Linked DNA regions of Homo sapiens: region 2 is linked to region 1. The links come from fine-mapping of genetic effects on gene expression. A gene starts in region 1. The other region holds a variant in brackets. All regions are shown on one strand. Distances are between the middles of the regions.

The links. PIP is the estimated chance that this variant, and not a neighbour inherited with it, causes the effect. A credible set is the group of variants that fine-mapping cannot tell apart.
Region 2: its variant is the best candidate, but not a certain one, in a credible set for the expression of IL36B in esophagus mucosa (GTEx, PIP 0.68).

What each region holds. Positions count from the first base shown.
Region 1 is chr2:113,048,533-113,058,258 of GRCh38, forward strand. IL36B (interleukin 36 beta) reads right to left here and starts at 4,335. Exons shown (of 5, transcript NM_173178.3): 1 at 4,285-4,335.
Region 2 is chr2:113,027,290-113,037,015 of GRCh38, forward strand. IL36B (interleukin 36 beta) reads right to left here. Exons shown (of 5, transcript NM_173178.3): 2 at 4,408-4,477; 3 at 3,759-3,866; 4 at 1,650-1,789; 5 at 144-826. The coding sequence starts at 4,420. The coding sequence ends at 614. Among named protein-coding and RNA genes, the nearest start is that of IL36B, 21 kb to the right of the region's middle. RefSeq lists a silencer at 6,803-7,097. The variant C/G (reference allele first, on the strand shown) is at 5,394.

The sequences.
Region 1 (9,726 bases):
AAGAAGAAAGACGTCAAATTAATAATTTGAGATTCCACCTGAAGGTACTAGAAAAAGGAGTAAAACAAGCTCAAAGCAAGGAGTGGGAAAGAAATTTATAAGATCGGAGCAAAAATCAATAGAATTGATTGCAGAAAGCAGTAGAGAATATTAATGAAGCTAAAATCTGATTATTAAAAAATCAAGAAAAATGAGAGGAGACTAATTACCAGTTTCATGAATAGAAGAGGGACATCACTACTGATTACACATACTTTAGAAGGGTAATAAGAGGATACTACAAACAAATTTATGCCCATAAATTTAACATCTTAGATAAAATGGACCAACATTTGGAAAGCCAAACTACTAAAACCCACAGAAGAAGTAAGTAACCTGAGTAATCCCATTTCTATGAAAGCAATTGAATTTATTTTAAAAATGTTTAATAATTTAAAATATGCTAGCTATTGTTCTTCTTAATGATGATGAAGAGGAAGCATCACACAATAATGATACTGATGATGGCAGTTGTGTTGGTGGGTGATGATGGTGATGGTGGAGCAAGTGGTGATGGTGCACATGCAAAAGAATGAAATTAGACCCTTATCTTATACCACATAAAAACATCAACTCAAAATGAATCAAAGACCTAAATGAAAGTTAAAGCCCTTAGAAGAAAACATAGGGGAAAGCTTTATCACATTGGATTTGGCAATGATTTCTTGCATATAGCACCAAAAAATAGGCAACAAAAGCAACAAAAGAAAAAATGGATACATTGGACTACATCAAAATTTAAAACTTCTGTACCTCAAATGACACTATTAATAGTATGTTAAGGTAACTCAGGGAATGGGAGGAAATAGGTGAAAGTCATATAAGGGGTTGACATCTAGAATATATATAGAACTCCTGTAACTCAACAACAAAAAAGCAAATAGCCCAGTTAAAAAATGGTCAAATGACTTGAGTAGACATTTCTCCAAATAATATATACTAATAGCCAATAAGCACATGAAAGGGTGCTCAACATCCCTAATAATTAGGAAAGCGTAAATCAAAACCACAATGATATACTGCTATTTCACACCCATTAAGATGGTTGCTATTAGAAAAAAATAGAAAATAACAAGTGTTGATGAGAATGTGGAGGAATTGGGTGGGGCGTGATGGCTTATGCCTGTAATCCCAGCACTTTCGGAGGCCGAGGTGGGCGGACCACCTGAGGTCAGGAGTTTGAGACCAGCTTGGTCACCATGGTGAAACCCTGTCTCTACTAAAAATACAAAAGTTAGCCAGGCATGGTGGCGTGCACCTGTAATCCCAGCTACTCAGGAAGCTGAGGCAGGAGAATCACTTGAACCTGAGAGGCAGAGGTTGAAGTGAGCTGAGATCACGCCACTTCACTCCAGCCTGGGCGACAAGAGTGAAACTCCGTCTAAAAAAAAAAAAAAGAATGTGGAGAAACTGGAACCCTTGTGCACTGTTGGTGGGAATGTAAAATGGTGCAACCACTGTGGAAAACGGTATGGTTGTTCCTCAAAAACTTAAACATAGAATTATCCATATGATCCAGGAGTTCCACCTCTGGGTATATTCACAAAGAATTGAAAGCAGAGACTTGAAAAGCTATTTGAACACCCATGTTCATAGCAGCATTATTCACAATACCCAAAAGGTGATGGCAACCCAAGTGTCCATCGACAGATGAACGAATAAAGAAAATGTGGTACACACACCACACAGCCTTAAAAGGAATGAAGTTCTGATACATGCTACAACATGGATGAATCTTGAAAGTAAACTCAGTTAAGTGAAATAAACTAATAACAAAAAAAAAAAAATACCGTGTAATTCCACGTATATGAGGCGCCTAAAGCAGTCAAATTCATAGAGATGGAAAGTAAAATGGTGGTTGCCAGGGGCCGCTGGGGAGAGGGGAGTGAGGAGTTATTGTTTTGTAGGTACAAAATTTCTGTTCTGCAAAACGAGAAGAGTTCTGGAGATGGATGGTGGTGATGGTTGCCCAACAATGTGAATGTCCTTAATGCCACTGAACTGTACACTTAAAAATGGTTAAAATGGTAATTTTTATATTATGTATATCTTACCACATTTAATAATAACAATTTAAAGATATATCAAAAGAGGCAAATGTGCAGACATCTATCGAATAAATAAGTTATCAAAAACAGCAAAAAGGGACAGATAATAATAATAAAAAAAGATAGTTTCTGTTTTTGAGGAGCCCACGAAAGCCACACATCACTGAGAAAGCCGAGGAGAGCTGGGGCTTTCTCAGGGGTAGCCCTGGTGCAGCTCCCTTGCCTCGTCTAGTCCTGCTTTAGATGCTCGCTACTCGGGTGAGGGCTGCAGATCCTTGTGGAAAGAGACAGAAAAAGAGGAAGAGAGCTTGAATTGGAGGCCGTGCCTCTCAGCGTGGCCTCCCGATCCTTGAATCGGAGGCCGTGCCTCTCAGCCTGGCCTCCTGATCCTTGAATCGGAGGCCGTGCCTCTCAGCGTGGCCTCCCGATCCTTGAATCGGAGGCCGTGCCTCTCATCGTGGCCTCCCGACCTAGCCTGGTGGAGAGCGCCCCCTGCCGGTAGATCCTGGCCCGGCACACTGAGAGCGGCAGGCCCCGCCGGAGGGGCCAGCGCAGGACCGGGGAGAATGGAGCTCAGCCAGTGCCTAGCCCTGGGTTTATTTCCAGTTTCCTGCTGGAGAGCAATGGTCAAACTACACAGTCCGGCGGAGGCGAGTCCGCAGGCTCTGGAAGCCTCTGAGGCACAGACGAGGAAAGCGCCTGAATGTGGATCTGGGGTACAGAAGTTGCCGGTGGCTCTGGCCCTGTTCATGGGACTCAGTCAGCAGAAACTGTGGGTGTGACACACACCGGAGCCTCACCTGCCCTGTGGACTGCCCACACTCTCTCTCAGAGCCTCACCTGCCCTGTGGACTGCCCACGCGCTCTCTCAGATCCCGGCCTGTGCACCTGGCCCTTCCCCAGCCTCCCAGGCAGAGGGTGCCACGGGGCTGAGGGCAGGCAACAAAGCCACTGGCCTCTGGCTCAGCACCCAGCTGCAGCCCTGTGGATCCTGGCCCACAGCCTCCCCATGACTTCACTGGCATCCAGGGTTTCTCGAAAGCGCTATGAGCCAAGTGGTACCCTTCCCCTCTGATGTGGCTGGGTTGGAGAGGGAGTCCTGGATGCAGCTGGAGGTCCCCTTCTGCTCACGGCTCCCTGGAGGCTGTGTCTGTGCATGCACACCATCACTCCTACTCCAGGAAGGACTTTCACGGATGTCCTCAGCTACCAAAAGTCACTCCAGGGAGTGATAAATTCCGTCCAACCCAAAGTGTGCCACACTCTGCTATGGGGCACTCCTTTGTCTCTGCACCAACTCTGTTGGTTTCTATTATCTTCTCTCCCTCTCTCCTTTTTTTTTTTTTTGAGACAGAGTCTTGCTCTGTTGCCCAGGATGAAGTGCAGTGACATGATCTCAGGTCACTGCAACTTTCACCTCCTGGGATTCAAGTGATTCTCGTGCCTCAGCCTCCCAAGTAGCTGGGATTACAGGTGTGCACCACTATGCCCAACTAGTTTTTGTATTTTTAGTAGAGACGGGGTTTCTTCATGTTTGCCAGGCTGGTCTTGAACTCCTGGCCTCAAGTGTTCTGCCCGCCTCTACCTCCCAAGGTACTGGGATTACAGGTGCGAGCCACTGCACCTGGCTGGTTTCTATTATCTTCTTAGAAAGCCTGTTGGTCCTTTGTGCAGACTCCTTCATTCCCCCAGCCTCGAGCTCTGCCTTCTATTCCAAATGTGTGAATTTATAAGCATTACACAGCTTATTTTTCATATTGGGGAATGGGTGTGAATTAGTATGAAGTCAAGCTGCAAGAGTACCAATACCAGGTCCATCTCTTACTAGTTTTGTGACCTTAGGTGACTTAGCCTCTCTAATTTTCGTTTTGTCTTATCAGTTAAATGGGAATAAGCATAGCACTTACCTTAGAGGACTGATGTGGGAATGAGGCAACATAATAGCTATATTGCTTTTATCACTGTACCTGACAGAGTGAATGTGTAACAAACGTTAACCTTTCTTGTCAGCAAATTTAAAACCTCACAGCATATTCTGCACTCATTACGCCAGTCTGTTGGAGCTGAGTCCATGCCTTTTTCTCTCTGCGTTGGGAAAGCCATGCTAGCTACATGCATTTTTGGTCATGAACCAGTCTTAGATTTAAGTCAATGTAAATTTGGCCTTTGCCGTGTTCTTAATGTCTTCTTTACATACCTAGGAAAAGTGAAGGAGAGGTGAGAAAGACAGAGTGGGGAGGAACCCGTGTCTGTGGGTTTGTGCTAGATGCCAACCTGGCTCTTCACATCCTCTGTCTCATCCAGTCAAGCAGCCACACTGAGTCCCCCAGCATGAGAACAGCTTCCACAGAGCAGGAGATTCTGGGTCTGAAATGAGGAGAGAGCTCCAGTCCCACCAGTGCCCTAGAGCATACCTCAGAATGCTCCTTTCTCCTGGTGGGATCCGTGGAGTCTGCCTGCTCTTCCAAGGATGCCTCAGCCTTTTAAGTAAGGCCTAGGGAGGGGCCCTGAAACTACCAGGACCTGAGGAGAAGCAGGATTCTCAGCGTGATTTCACACCACCCTAAGCCGCCGGGAATACTTGCTGCTCATTATCTCTCTATTGGAGTCTCATGGAACACATTGTGGGAAGTGCTATAGAATTCTAGGGACATAGTGGGCACCAAGTGAATATCAGTTACTTTAATTATTACTAAATTTATCTCCCTAACAGGAATTTACTATCTTACCATAATAAACTCTGCTTACATTCTCATATAGGTGAATACACCTGCCCTAAGTCATCTCTACAGCAAGAGCAGAGGCCACATCTACCTCCAGGGTTATTGCCATTCTCACAAAGGTGAGGATAAGTCACCACAGGGAACATTGCTTCTCTGCAGGCTGTGACACTTTCCAGGGCATATAAAGCCCATGAAGAACTGAGATGTTTGCTGAGAAGAGAGCATACCCACCGAAGACAGTGGAAAATGAAAAAACAACAGGAGTAGAAACTTCCCAATAGTGATGTCAAACTGTATTAGTTACTAATTGCTGTGTAACAGCAAACCTAGCGACCTAAAACAAACAAAAAAATTATTTAACAAAGACAGAGTCGGGAATAAGAAAACTGGCTTGGCTGGAGGGTTCGGCTCAGGGTGTCTGATTAGGTTGTAGGAAAGATGTCAGCCAAGGTTTCAGTCATCTGAAGGCTTGACTGGGACTGAAGGATCTGTTTGTAAGATTGCTCACTCAGACCATTGGCAGGAAACCACAGTTTCTCACCATGTGGGCTTCTATATAGGGGTGCTTGAATATCCTTATTAGATGGCAGCTGGCTTCATCCAGGTGAGTGTTCTAAGAGCAAGGAGGAAACTGCAATGCCTTTTATGACCTGGTCTCAGAAGTGACATGCTGCCATGTTCACCATGTAACATACTCATTAGAAAAAAGTCACTAAGTCCAGTCCATACTCAAGAGAAGGGCAGTTAAACTTCCTCTCTGTATCAGTCTGTTCTCACACTGCTAATAAAGACATACCTGAGACTGAGTAATTTGTAAAGGAAAGAGATTGAATTGACTCACAGTTCCACATGGCTGAGGTGGCATCACAATCATGATGGAAGATGAAGGAAGAGCAAAGTCACATCTTACATGGCAGGAGGGAAGAGAGCTTGTGTAGGGGAATGCCCCTTTATAAAACCATCAGGTCTCATGAGACTTATTCACTAGAATGAGAATAGCACAGGAAAGACCTGCCCTGATGATTCAGTTACCTCCCACTGGGTCCCTTCCATGACATATGGGAATTATGGGAGCAACAACTCAAGATGAGCTTTGGGTGGGGACACAGCCAAACTATATCATTCCACCCCTGGCTCCTCGCAAATCACATGTCCTCACATTTCAAAACCAATCATGCCTTCCCAACAGTCCCCCAGGGTCTTAACGCATTTCAGCATTAACTCAAAATTCCACAGTCCAAAGTCTCATCTGAGACAAGGCAAGTCTCTTCTGCCTATGAGCTGTAAAATCAAAAGCAAGTTAGTTACTTCCTAAATACAATAGGAGTACAGGCATTTGGTAAGTACAGCTATTCCAAATGGGAGAAATTGGCCAAAACAAAGGGGCTACAGGCCCCATGCAAGTTCAAAATCCAGCGGGGCAGTCAAATCTTAACGCTTCAAAATTACCTCCTTTGAGTCTCTGTCTCACATCCAGGTCATGCTTATGCAAGAGGTGGGTTCCCATAGTCTTTGGAAGCTCCACTCCTGTGACTTTGCAGGGTACAACCCTCCTCCTGGCTGCTTTCATGGGCTGACACTGTCTGTGGCTTTTCCAGGCACACAGCATAAGCTGTTGGTGGATCTACCATTCTGGGATCTGGAGGACAGTGGCCCTCTTCTCACAGTTCCACTAGACAATGCCCCAGTGGGGACATTGTGTGGGGGCTCCCACCCCACATTTCCCTTCTGCACTGCCCTAGCAGAGGTTCTCCATGAGGGCTATGCCCATGCAGCACACCTCTGCTTGGACATTTAGACATTTCCAAACATCCTATGAAATCTAGGCGGAGGCTCCCAAACCTCAGTTCTTCACTTTTGTGCACCCACAGGCTCAACACCACATGGAAGCTGCCAAGGGTTGGGATTTACACCCTCTAAAGCCATGACCCAAGCTGTACCTTTGCCCTCTTTAGCCAAAGCTGGAGTGGCTGGGATGCAAGTCATCCCAAGTCCTGAGACTACACAAAGCTGCCAGGCCCTGGGTCTGGCCCATGAAACCATTTTTTCCTCCTGGACCTCCAGGTCTGTGATGGGAGGGGCTTCTGTGAAGACCTCTGATATGCCCTGGAGACACTTTCCCCATTTTCTTGGTGAAAAACATTTGGCTCCTCTTTCCTTATGCAAATTTCTGCAGCCAGCTCGAATTTCTCTTCAGAAAATAGGTTTTTCTTATCTCATCTTCATGCTGCATGTTTTCCAAACTTTTATGCTCTGCTTCCCTTTTAAATGTAGGTTCCAATTCCAAACCATATATTTGTGAATACATAAAACTGAATGTTATCAGCACCCAAATCACCTCTTGAATACTTTGCTGCTTAGAAATTTCTTTTGCCAGATGCCCTAAATCATCTCTTTCAAGTTCAAAGTTCCACAGATTTCTAGGTCAGGGGCAAAATGCTGCCAGTCTCTTTGCTAAAGCATAACAAGAGTCACCTTTGCTTCAGTTCCCAACAAGTTCCTCATCTCCATCTGAGACCACCTCAGCCTGGACCTTATTGTCCATATCACTATCAGCATTTTGGTCAAAGCTATTCAGTGAGTCTCCAGGAAGTTGCAAACTTTCCCACATCCTCCTATCTTCTTCTGAGCCCTCCAAACTGTTCCAACCTCTGCCTTTTACCCAGTTCCAAATTGCTGGGTAACAGGCAAAGTGTTAAAGTGCTGAAATGCCAATAGTGATGTCAAGGTGTGTTAGTTACCAATTGTTGTGTAACAAAGTATCAGCAAAGTTAGCAGCTTAAAACAAGAAAAAATTATTATTTAACAAAGGCTGAGAGTCAGGAATGAGAAAACTGGCTTGGCTGGAGGGTTTGGCTCAGGGTGTCTCATTAGGTTACAGGAAAGATGTCAGCCAGGGTTGCAGTCATCTGAAGGCTTGACTGGGGCTAGAGGATCTGCTTCTAAGATTGTGCATTCACAGACTGTTGGCAGGAAAAAATAGTTTCTCACCACGTGGGCCTCTCCATAGGGCTGCTTGAGTGTCCTTATCACATAGTGGCTGGCTTTGTCCAGGTGAGTGATCTAAGAGCTAGGAGGAAATTGCAATGCCTTTTATGATGCTGCCATGTTCATCATGTAACATAGCGCCCCACTCCCAGTATCAATTTACTATATCAGTCTGTTCTCATGCTGCTAATAACAACATAACCAAGACTGTGTAATTTATAAAGGAAAGAGGTTGAATTGACTTAGAGTTCCACATGGCTGGGGAGGCCTCACAATCATGGTGGAAGATGATGAAAGAAGAGCAAAGTCATGTCTTACATAGTGGCAGGCAGGAGAGCTTGTGTGGGGAAATTCCCCTGTATAAAACCATCAGATCTTGTGAGACTTATTCACTATCATGAGACCAGCACAAGAAAGACCTGCCCCCATGATTCAATTACCTCCCACTGGGTTCCTTCCATGACACGTGGGAATTATAGAAGCTACAATTCAAGATGAAATTTGGGTGGGAACAGAGCCAAACCATATCACCTTCTTAAAGATGAAGTTTCCAAGAATTTATGGACATATTTTAAAACAGCCACACATGGTTTGCGAATTGGCAGCATTGTCTTTAGGTAGTGCCAAAGTTTATTTTTCAGAAGTTCAAAACTTGACTCTCATACACACATATAGTGAGCATGTGTCAAAGATTTACTATTTTTCATAAGTGAGGGAATCAGCAAGATTATAAAGCTGATTATCAAAAGATAATTCAGGGAATGGAGGCTTATACCGTCAGTCAAGAAATAAAGGCTGAAATAGGTTGGCTAAGTTACGTTTTAAAGACAGCTTTATGACTTGTGAGGCAATAAAACTGCACCCTTTGGAGTTATCTTTTCTATCAGACAGGAATAATGTGTAATTTATCAATGTTCTCTTAGTTCATGGCTAATTTCACAGAGTCTGAGACCTAATTAGTAAGTCAAGCAAAGGGATAGGTCCAGAGAGAACTTATTGTTGGTGAGGCCTGTTTGATAATGTTTTCATATAATATTGACAGTATACACAGTCATAGTTTCATTTTACTTATTATTTATTTATTTATTGAGGCAGAGTCTAGCTCTCTCTGTCATCCAGGCTGGAGTACAGTGGCTCAATCTTGGCTCACTGCAACCTCCACCTCCCAGGTTCAAGCAATTCTCACACCTCAGCCTCCTGAGTAGCTTGGATTACAAATGTGCACCACCAACCCGGCTAATTTTTGTGTTTTCAGTAGAGATGGGGTTTTGCCACGTTGGCCAGGCTTGTCTCATTTCATCTTATTTCTACTGTCATTCCATTTGGTCAATTTGTAATTTAATAATTTTGTACAAGGCAGTTTCTACATTAATTTTATTTTTCTGAAAAGTGTCTATCATATTAGTGGCATTATGAAAATCGTAGATTATTTTCTGTGTTTTGAACAACTTGATATTTTATTTATTCTTGAACACTTGTAGGACCTCTTGGCTCATATGTCTGAATACCATTTCTTTAAAATGTACGCTTTAACATGTACACATATGTAACAAACCTGCACATTGTACACATGTATCCTAAAACTTAAAGTATAATAATAATAATAAAAGAAAAAAGAAAAATAAAACTTAAAAAAAAAGTGTATGCTTTAACAATAAATTATTAATAAATAGTTATCTGTGTTATTCAAGATATAATTAAATTGTTTTTTGTGCACTGACCCTTACCTTTATTTCAGATCCATCACAGAGAGTGCATGGAGGTATTTAAACTGCATTAACTGTTTCACAATTAAGTATTATCTTATCAATTAGGTATTCAAGAAAGATCACTTACAGAATTATAGATGGCATGAGCTAGATTTTACTTTCTAAAGAAATAACCAGATACATGAGCAAAGATGTTAATACAAAGATGTTTGTCACAAC
Region 2 (9,726 bases), 21 kb before region 1:
CAGGAGAAGCAGGGACATTTGGTGTAACTTTTATTGAAAAAAATCAGTGTTTAAGTGGACCTGTGCAGTTCAAAATCGTGTTGTTCAAGGGTTAAGTGTATACACTGTGTGTCAAATTATTAACGAATGACATTAAGAATTCATTAGGATTAGAAAGACATGCAAACCTTTAATTTCACATTCATCTCATTCTTCAGCTTTATCTTTGGGGCACATATTATAATGTTTTATTGAAGAAGTTGTATGAACAAAATGTCATGAATCCACATCTCTACATCATGGGTTGGCAAAAGGAATAGGAATGGAAGGTTGCATGAAGCAGCATTTGGGGGGTTGACTAAACTGGGCATGGCAGCTGAGTGGATGGTGGGGTAAGATCAAGAAAGAATGGAAAGTGATTTTTAGGTTTCATCTTGGGATAGTGACATTCGAGTGAGGGTCTTGGTACAGAAATGGATGTTTGGAGGAGGAGGTGGCTTTTGGATAGTAAGAATGAGGTAAGCTATGGATGGGCTGAACTGCTAGTGAACTCAGTCGCATAATGATCTGTTAAGATGACTCTGACAGCTTGATTCTCTATCCTGGAACCAGCCACCCACAGCCTAGGCTGGATTTATTCCACAGAATCTAAGTAGAAGTTAGTGTTATTAGTTATGCCTCTCTCCTTGGTGAGAAAGATGGGCTGTCCTGATGTGGTGGAGGTGGCTATGAACCAGCCAGGGTAAGAGACTGACTGAAAGACAGAAGTGGAGCCTTCTTTATTGTGGAAAAAGAGAAAGGGCTTCTGTGCTTTCTTCTCCACATACAGGTCCATGATATTTTTTTCCTGGGGGTGGAAAAGAGGCTTGTTAGAGAGGAGGATAGGAGGAGGAAGCTAAAGTAACTCAGCTCTGAGTGTGTAACAGGAGAGGGACTGCTGCCCCCAAAGGAAGGGACAGAGGCTAGGGACAAAGGCAGATGAAGCAGGGCATTAGAGTGTTAAAAACGGGAACTCACTGGGTTCCCATAGCCTGGCTCCACCCCAGGATCCTCTGACACAAGGTGCTCTGACTCTTTGAAGCATCACTGTCTTCCCTGGAACAGAGGGAGGTTGAAATCTCTTTCTTGGTGCTTTTGATATGCATTTGTCTGCAGGTTCAGGCCAGTCTTGCTGCATTCTCAACCTCCAAGTGGGCTTATGCATTACAATTTCCAACAATAGCAGAAGAATTAGCTTCATAACTACAATGTTGCCTTGGTAAGAGTTATGTGTTTATGGTACACAGACCATAACCACATTCAAAATCTTTTTGTCTCCTCTGCTGTGCAGTCACCTTTGGTGTAGTGAGAGCATCCCGTTGTCTTAGAGGATTTCCAGAATGCAGTTAAACAGGACCGAGAATGGAGAAAATACTGTTCTTTGGCTTTTCTGAAACATTCCTGTAAGTGTATTTTCTATCTTTCAGAGGATCTATGCTCTGACATTAAAAGAAGTGTTATATCCATTCCAAAGGCAGCATTTATAGATTCAGGGATCAGCCAGGTCAGAATTATTTCCTTACATTGAATAGTCCAGGGTTGCAAGCATATTATTTTTATTCAGTAACATAGTAAATGAAATAGAAAGTCCATATGACAGTACTTCTCTCGTTAGCTGCACAATCACTCACCTTAAGCTGCAAAGTAGGCTTGCCCTGAATTTCTGCACAGAAGAGACAGAGATCTTTTCCCTTGATTCCCAGGTAAACCATATTACCCTTTTCCTTGTCACTGAATTCTGTGTCTCTACAGGCTATTAAATGAAGAGTGACTGGAAACACAAAGGAAAATGGAGAAGATGTTTCAGTCTTTCTGGTCTGACACTCAGTTACTCCCCCCAGGTAGGGAATAGTGACAGGCTCCTCCCATTAGCCATGTGGCAGAGACCCTCCATCACCCTCCTCAAACCTATTTTGTTTTTCGTCCTTAATAACAGAACCCCAGTTGTCACCAGGACATGTTGCTTCCCAAAAAGAAGTAAAATTTCCTACCACACTTGCAGCAAAATGTGGTCATATGCTTAAGATGTGGCCCATGAGATAAAAGTGGGGAGCTTCTATCTCATGGGCCACAATATGAGATGGGATGGGGGCTACCCAAATAAAGTGAGAGGTGGGTAGTGAGAATGTGATGGCAGTGGTCCAGGCAAGAGATGATGTTATCTTAGAAATCAGGCATGTTTTGCACGTAGACCTACCAATCTTTGCTAATAGATTGGATGGAGAGTGAGGGAAAGGAGGAATCAAGGATGTCTCCTGTATTTCCGGCTCGAGGAAATGGAGTGGACAGAAGTGCCACCAACAGAGAATGTTAGCGGTTTTGAGAAGACAGATCAATAGTCCCACTTGGGATACATGAAGTTAGAGGTATCTGAGAGGACCTCAAGAGGACACGGGTAAACTATTGAGAGAGGAGATCTGTGTTGGAAGTGTAAACGGCAGAGTGAATGAGTGTAGGGGTGATTCATCAATGCAAAAGATCAGCTCATTACCCATTCACAGGGCTTGTAAATGATGACTGGCTGAGCCCTGAGGAACGCCATCATTTGGAGATTTCAGAGACAAAGGAGAGTCATAAAAGAAAATGCAAAAGAGGAGCCAGCAAACCTCATGAGAAGTAATATTCTAATAGAAGGAGAAGATGGGCCAGGTGCGGTGGCTCACGCCTGTAATCCCAGCACTTTGGGAGGCTGAGGTGGGCGGATCACGAGGTCAGGGGTTCGAGACCAGCCTGACCAATGTGGTGAAACCCCATCTCTATTAAAAATACAAAAATTAGCTAGGCACAGTGGTGGGCACCTGTAATCCCAGCTACTCAGGAGTCTGAGGCAGGAGAATTGCTTGAAACCTGGGAGGTGGAGGTTACAGAGAGCTGAGATCGTGCCATTGCACTCCAGCCTGGGTGACAGAGTGAGACTCCGTTTAAAAAAAAAAAAGGGAGAAGATGTAGAGTATTCAAGAAGGAAATGGTCCATTACACTAGTGAGCTAAGGGCCAAATAGCATGGGGACCAAGAAGTGTCCTTTGGGTTTGAGTATTTGAAGGTCATGGGTGAAATAGAAGGTTGGGGGGGAGTAGGAAGAGTAATCCAGATGTTAGACTGCAAATTATGCAGCCAGCTCTCGTGAAGTTTTGCTATGATTGGCACAAGAAAATGTGTTAGTAGGAGGAAAATGTGGGAATCAAGAGAAGGTTGCAGCATGTCTGACAATGATAGAAAGGGTCCAGTAAACAAAGGTGGAATTTGCAGGGAAGCGAGGAATTAAACATTGAAGTTCTGGATACAGGGAAAGAAGCTGAGATGGACTGACTTTTGATGGGAGAAAGGAATATTTCCCCATTATTAGAAAAGAGGATGCCAACTTAGAAAGCTGTGTAGGTTTGGTGGTGGAAAGATGACGGAGTTTGAATCTGAGGACACAGGTAGCAATGGTTGGAACCTGAAGGAGAGAAACTCCAAGGAGAAGGTTAGCTGTTGTTTGAATGGATAAGCCCTTCTAATCTGAAGATATTTTCTTTTGGTAAGAGGAGCTGTCAACCCTTCACACCCTCATTTCTAGATATGGGATTTCCTTTGTGGAAGGGAATCATAGTGTCCTTTCTCACTTGACCTTCCTGTGGCTGTTGGGCTGGTGCCTAGAAGTGGGTGAGGTCCAGGGCCAGGCTTATGCAAGCTCAGCCTCATTCCTGGTGAAGATGGCATCACCTCAAGAAGCAACAGTGGGTTTGATTGTCACTCACCAGGCTTAATGCTGCGGCTAAGAGGAGCTGCTATTAAAGAATTTCCACTCAGGACCCACACCATCTGTCGAGAATCACGAATAGCATAGGATTTGGGTGCTGCCTCCCCTGCCAGATGACAAAAATGCACAAAATACACGTGAGGTTATCAACTTCAGGACTCCAGTTGCATCCTGGTATTAATGGCTTTTGAGTTTCTGGAGAGAGTCTCATTGCTCTGAGAAGTAGTGGCTATAACGATAAATGGAGGGGAAATAGGGCAGGGACTAGTTTGTGAATCAAAGCATTTGAAAGGATCTACGTGCAGTCACAGTCCCAAGATTCACCTTTTTCTAGGGCTATTAGTGACTTGTCTTTTTCCGAATGATAAAATGTCTAGGTGGTAAAAAAAACCCCATAATATTTAAATTAGTTATCCATATGTTGTTTTTTAAAATCCTCTCATCAAAATAAACAAGCAATTCTAAATACAGATAATAATAAAAGAGCTAGGTGCCCCGAGATTTTCAAAGGCCGTTTTAGGAACTGAGTGTTTTAGCAAGAGCAAATACATTTATAGCTTAGCAAATGATAGGGGTCCTTCCATCCTATTGTCTTTGATGAGGTCAGATGGAGATATTTCCAAGCTGATTTGCAATTCACCACTTACGTTGTGGGTTCATGATGTCTTCAGAGCCTTTTGTGAAGAGAACAAGATAGATCAGATGGTGGTGAGGAGGCTGTTAACAGTTGGCCATGTGAGAGAAGGAGAGAAGAAACATGTTATGCTTTTTTCTCCTCTCCCCCTAAAATTTTACTGTAAAAATTCTTTAGAGAGAGCTGCCCTGAGAGCCTCTCCTAGATGCATATTTGAGAATAAGGATGGGTACAGGACATTTCAAGGCCAGAAAACCCTAAAAGGAAGCTCCCATCTCTGCTGTGGCTGGCACAGTCCTGCTTCTCTAGGCTGTGATGGTCTTGGTATGCTTTCCATTAATCACATCTGGGATTGTTAGGAGGTTCCAACACATCACCACGGGCACCTTCTAGTACTCTGAGTCTCTGGGTTGAGAGGAAGGAGGGAGAGACAGAGTGCGTGTGTGTGTCTGTGTGTGTGTGTGTGTGTGTGTGTGTGTGTGTGTGTATCTCCATTTTAGCCCTCCACACAGCAGGTTAATCACCACTTTTCCTGACTTGAAGCTGAACACTCCTAAGTAATTTGTAGCTAACCTGCCTCACTGAGCCCATCTTCTTCCATTCCTCATCCAAAGAGACATCTGTAAGGATCATGCACATGGCCACTGAGGGCCCCACAAGGTGCTTTGACTATTAGGGATCATCTGCCTCTGGTTTTCTAGTTAGGGCACCAGAACAGTCCCCAAGAATATCACAGACACTCCACAATGAGAACCAGTTGTTCACAACCCTCCTTCTCTCAGGATCCTTGATGTGTGATTCAATAGTTGTCCCTACACAGTGGATAAGCAGATCACCAACCTGCACCCTTGTAAGCAGCCCTGGATCCTTCAGTACTCTGTACCTTTGACAAGACTCCCAGAGGCACTTCGAGGCTAAACACAGAGACATGAAAGAAGTTCCCCATACCTGGGTTCTAAGCAGCAGAAGTTACCTTTAGCAAGAGATGCTTTTGTCCCT[C/G]GTTTCAAAGTCAAGGCTCTAGTTGCATGTAAGTGGTCTAGCTGCATGAAAAGCTGGTCCAGGACTCCCAGGCCCCTTAATGACCAAGGAAAGAGCATTCTTTCCTGCCCCTGGGTGTGTTCATTTTGGAAAGAAAGCTGATATGGCCCAAAGATCTCTTGAGGCTCTGGAGGACTGACAGTGGAGCAACACAAGCATGACTGGTCTGTGCTTCCTGATTAACAAGAGCAGAGGCAACATCAGAAAACAGCAATGAGGAAATGCGGATTAGGCCAGATGCTGAGTTGAGGAGAGTGCCTTTACTGGTCTTCCTTGGAGGCAGAGGTGTGTCTCCCTTGGAGGCAGAGGTGTGGCTCTCTTGACCCACTAAACTGCATGAAGCCATTGCTGTGTTTGCATCTGATGTTAGGCCAATCACAGTACTCCTTGCAGGAGTTTTACACACCCACCATGTCACATTTATATGGTACAAATATTGAGAGCTTATTCTGTTTCTGCTAAAGTTGTAAGAGCTTTACCTGAGTAACCTTTTAATCTTCACGCTACATTTACTTTTTTTTTGGAGATGGAGTCTCGCTCTCGCTCTGTCGCCAAGCTGGAGTGCAGTGGCACGATCTCGGCTCATGGAAACTTCCGCCTCTCAGGTTCAAGTGATTCTCCTGCCTCAGCCTCCCGAGTAGCTGGAACTACAGGCACCCACTGCCACACTGGGCTAGTTTTTTGTATTTTATATTTCAGTAGAGAAGGGGTTTCACTGTGTTGCCCAGGCTGGTCTCAAACTCCTGAGCTCAGGCAGTCCACCCGCCTCGGCCTCCCAAAGTACTAGGATTACAGGCGTGAGCCACTGCACCCGTCCCACACACAACTCTTTAGGGGCCATTAATTTTATTTCTCATGTAAGAAAACAGCGGCTCTGAGGGATGACAGAATGTACCCAAAGTCATACAGCTACTAAGAAATCTAGCCAAGTTAGAAGCCAAGTCTCTCTATTCTTAATGATTATGTGACATGCCTCCCCTGGGTCATAGTCTCCTGCATACTGCACTAGCCGGAACACAGTCTTGCATTCAGTTGAGGATACTGAAAAATCTATAATGTGTCCAGGAGAGGAGAGGAGAGAACTTGGAGGTCTTGTGGCTTTCTAACTCTGAATTAGGAGTCAGACGCGGCTTCAATGTTGGCTATGAAAGAAAATCATTACTCTTGAAACCGAATATTATTGGTCAGTCCTACTCCCAATCACTCTTTGTGGTTCTGCTCTTGGAAATCCACCATTGACTCTATCTTCTGGAGCATTGCAATAGTCTCCTTGCTTCTGTTCTTACCTCCCTAGAGTCAGATGTCCACCTAGCAGTGACCAGAATCAAAGATGTAAATAAAGTCGTATGACTCTCTTGCACAGAACCCTCTAATAGCTTTGCTTTATGCCCCAAATAACCAAAGCCCTCACCAAGCCCACATGATCTGGGTCCTCTTTATCTTTCTGCTGCCTTCTATCCCTGCCCATCTGACTTCCCTGCTCTGGATGTACTGGATTCTGCTGATTTTCTTGCCCTGCAAGCTTATCTTCGCCTGCAGGGAGTTTTTCCTGTTCCTCTGAAGGAACAGCCTTCCCCAGGTCAACAAGTGGTCCACTCCCTCGCTTCTTCCATGCATATGCAAAAAAGCCAACTTCTCAATAAGGTATTCCCCAGCCAGCCTATCTCCAAGAGTCCCTCACCCATGTCCTAGCCCCTTATTTTGCTCAACTATTTTCTTCATAAAATGTATGCTTCCATGGTTTTGGAAAATGTATTTATCCATCTATTTATTTATTTATTATCTCCACTACCAAAATGCCAGTTCTGTGGGGCCAGGGAACCTGTTTTGTCTTGAGGCCAGAGAACTATGTGCTCAGTGGCAGGAATGGTGCGGACCTCTTATGGGAACTAACAAATATTTTTTGATAAACAAATAAATGTATGTAGTATCTCATGAATAAGAGGAAGACAGGGAAGAGAAAAGGGGAGTGGGATGCTTTGTAGGAAAGGCATCACTTGTGGTGAGAGGTGAGTTCTTGACCTCCTCATGGAGAAGGGCCAGGGGATGCTCTCCTATCGCCAGGATGGAGCCTCCCAAGAGAATCACTCAAACAGTCAGTGGGACTGGCAGCTTTGCCCCCATCTGGATGACTGGCACACCTAGAGACCCACAGGCTCACCTTGGCTCCTTGGCCAGGGCAGTGTGTGGTGAGGGAGTTCAGGGAGACCCTGATGTGATTTTACTGAAGTGTGGTGTACTCTAGAGATACAGACAAGGCTCTAACCTTCCCAGCACCAGCAGAGCCTAAAGAAACTATGGGGTCACATTCCTTGGAAGAACTTGGCAGAAACTCCCACCCCAACTCAGAACTTTTAGACATTTAAAGTGTGGAAGACTGAAGGCTCTCATGACTCCATGCAAAGAAGCCAGTGGTTGGCAGAAGGGTTGGAACCATGAGATTTTCCCCAAGGGATCAATGGGTCAAGTGATAGGATGTCCAACCATGAAAAGAATTTGAATCTGGGATCTATTCAGGTCCTGAGAGTGCTTAATGATGAAGACAGACAGGGTGACACTGATGGTCAGTCACCCTGTCCAAGAAACTACACACACGGTGTACTGAAATAAAATGAAATCAGACTGTACCAGAAACTGTGGGAACCCCTCCCTCTGCAAACCCAAAGCCAGTGCTGCAAGAACTCTGCCTTTCCTGTGCTTTTTCTTGGCCCCTAACATCTCAGCACTGGTAGGGGTACATGATCCATTCGCCTATGCCCACCATCTTGAGAAGCTCTTCTGAAAAAAAAAATAATAATAGCAACAAGAAAGTTGTGAAGTTTGGCAGGGATGTTGTTAGAGGACCTGATATCCAGTGAGAAAAAAAGCAAGTGAATATAGCAACATCGAAAGTAGAAATTAAAGAAGAAGAAAAGGAAAAAACAAAAATATTTTGATGTTTATACCTAGATGACTTGATGGTAAATAAATGGGTGAGATAAATAAATGAGTTAGAAACAGAAATAGATTAAGAAGAAGGCAATCCCAAGAGTCATGGAATAATGGCTTCACCCAGGGAGGAGGTGTGAAGATTCCCAGGATGAAGCTGTGTCTCTGACATAGACAATGCCTTTCCTGACTGATCAGAGGATTGAGATAAAAGAAGGGAAGTGGTTGCCTCAGGAGAGTAGGATTTGGTGGGGAAGAAATGGTCAGGGCTCTGTTGTTGGTAATTTTGCACTTTTCGATTCTTTTGTTTTTTTCTTTTCTTTTGCTCTGTCGCCCAGGCTGGAATGCAGTGGCGCGATCTTGGCTCACTGAAACCTCCGCCCCACCCGGGTTCAAGAAATTCTCCTGCCTCAGCCTCCCAAGTAGCTGGAGTTACAGGCATGCACCACCACACCTGGCTAATTTTTGTATTTTTTTTGTAGAGATGAGTTTTGCCATGTTGGCCAGCCTGGTCTTGAATTCCTGACCTCAAATGATCTGCCTGCCTCTGCCTCCCAAAGTGCTGGAATTCAGGCGTGAGCCAGCGTACCAGGCCTGATTCTATATTATTTTTAAAGCAATATACATGTGTTGTTATAAAAAAAAAGATTAAAACTAATTAGTCACGTTCCATGCCCTCATTTTATTTATCTGAAAACACCTTGCTTTTTTTTTTTTTTTCATGAAGTGGGTGCTGAGTCTCCTTTAAGGAGATAAATATAGGAAACTTAGGAGGGCTTATTCAGACACACCCCATGGCATCTTTTCTCTTTTTGCTCAGAGAGAAAAACCAAATATCTGATGAATGCAGCTGAGGGCATCCAACCCTTGATATGAAGCTCAGTTTTCATTCCCAGGTTGGAGATTCTGCCTCAGTCTCTGTCCTTCTGGTGACAAAGTCAGTAATGAGCAGGAATTTCCTCTTCCTGCCCCCAGGAAGAACACATTTCTGTGGGTGCTAAAATAGCTTAATTCCTGGATAGGCCAAACTCAGGCCTTCAGAAGCCTGTGAGGCATAGAATAAATAAGCATTTGATCCTGCCCAGAGCGCCTTATCCTGATTCTTTAAGCTGAGAGCCCAGATATTCCTTTCCTGGTGTGAAGGTAGGTGGATGATGTCGGAGGCCCAGCCTTGGTGATTCAGCCAGTCAGAAGGGACTGCATCTGAGCCAGACAAAATCTAGGACGGCACTGCCCTGTGTAGCCTGCCTATCTTGCCTGCATCCTGCCTGCAGGGAATTTGCGCTGCTCCGATTCTCCAGTCTGGGGAATGTAATAGAGTCACAGTAACTGTGGTAGCACAAGTGCTAAGATCCAGTCGAAACTA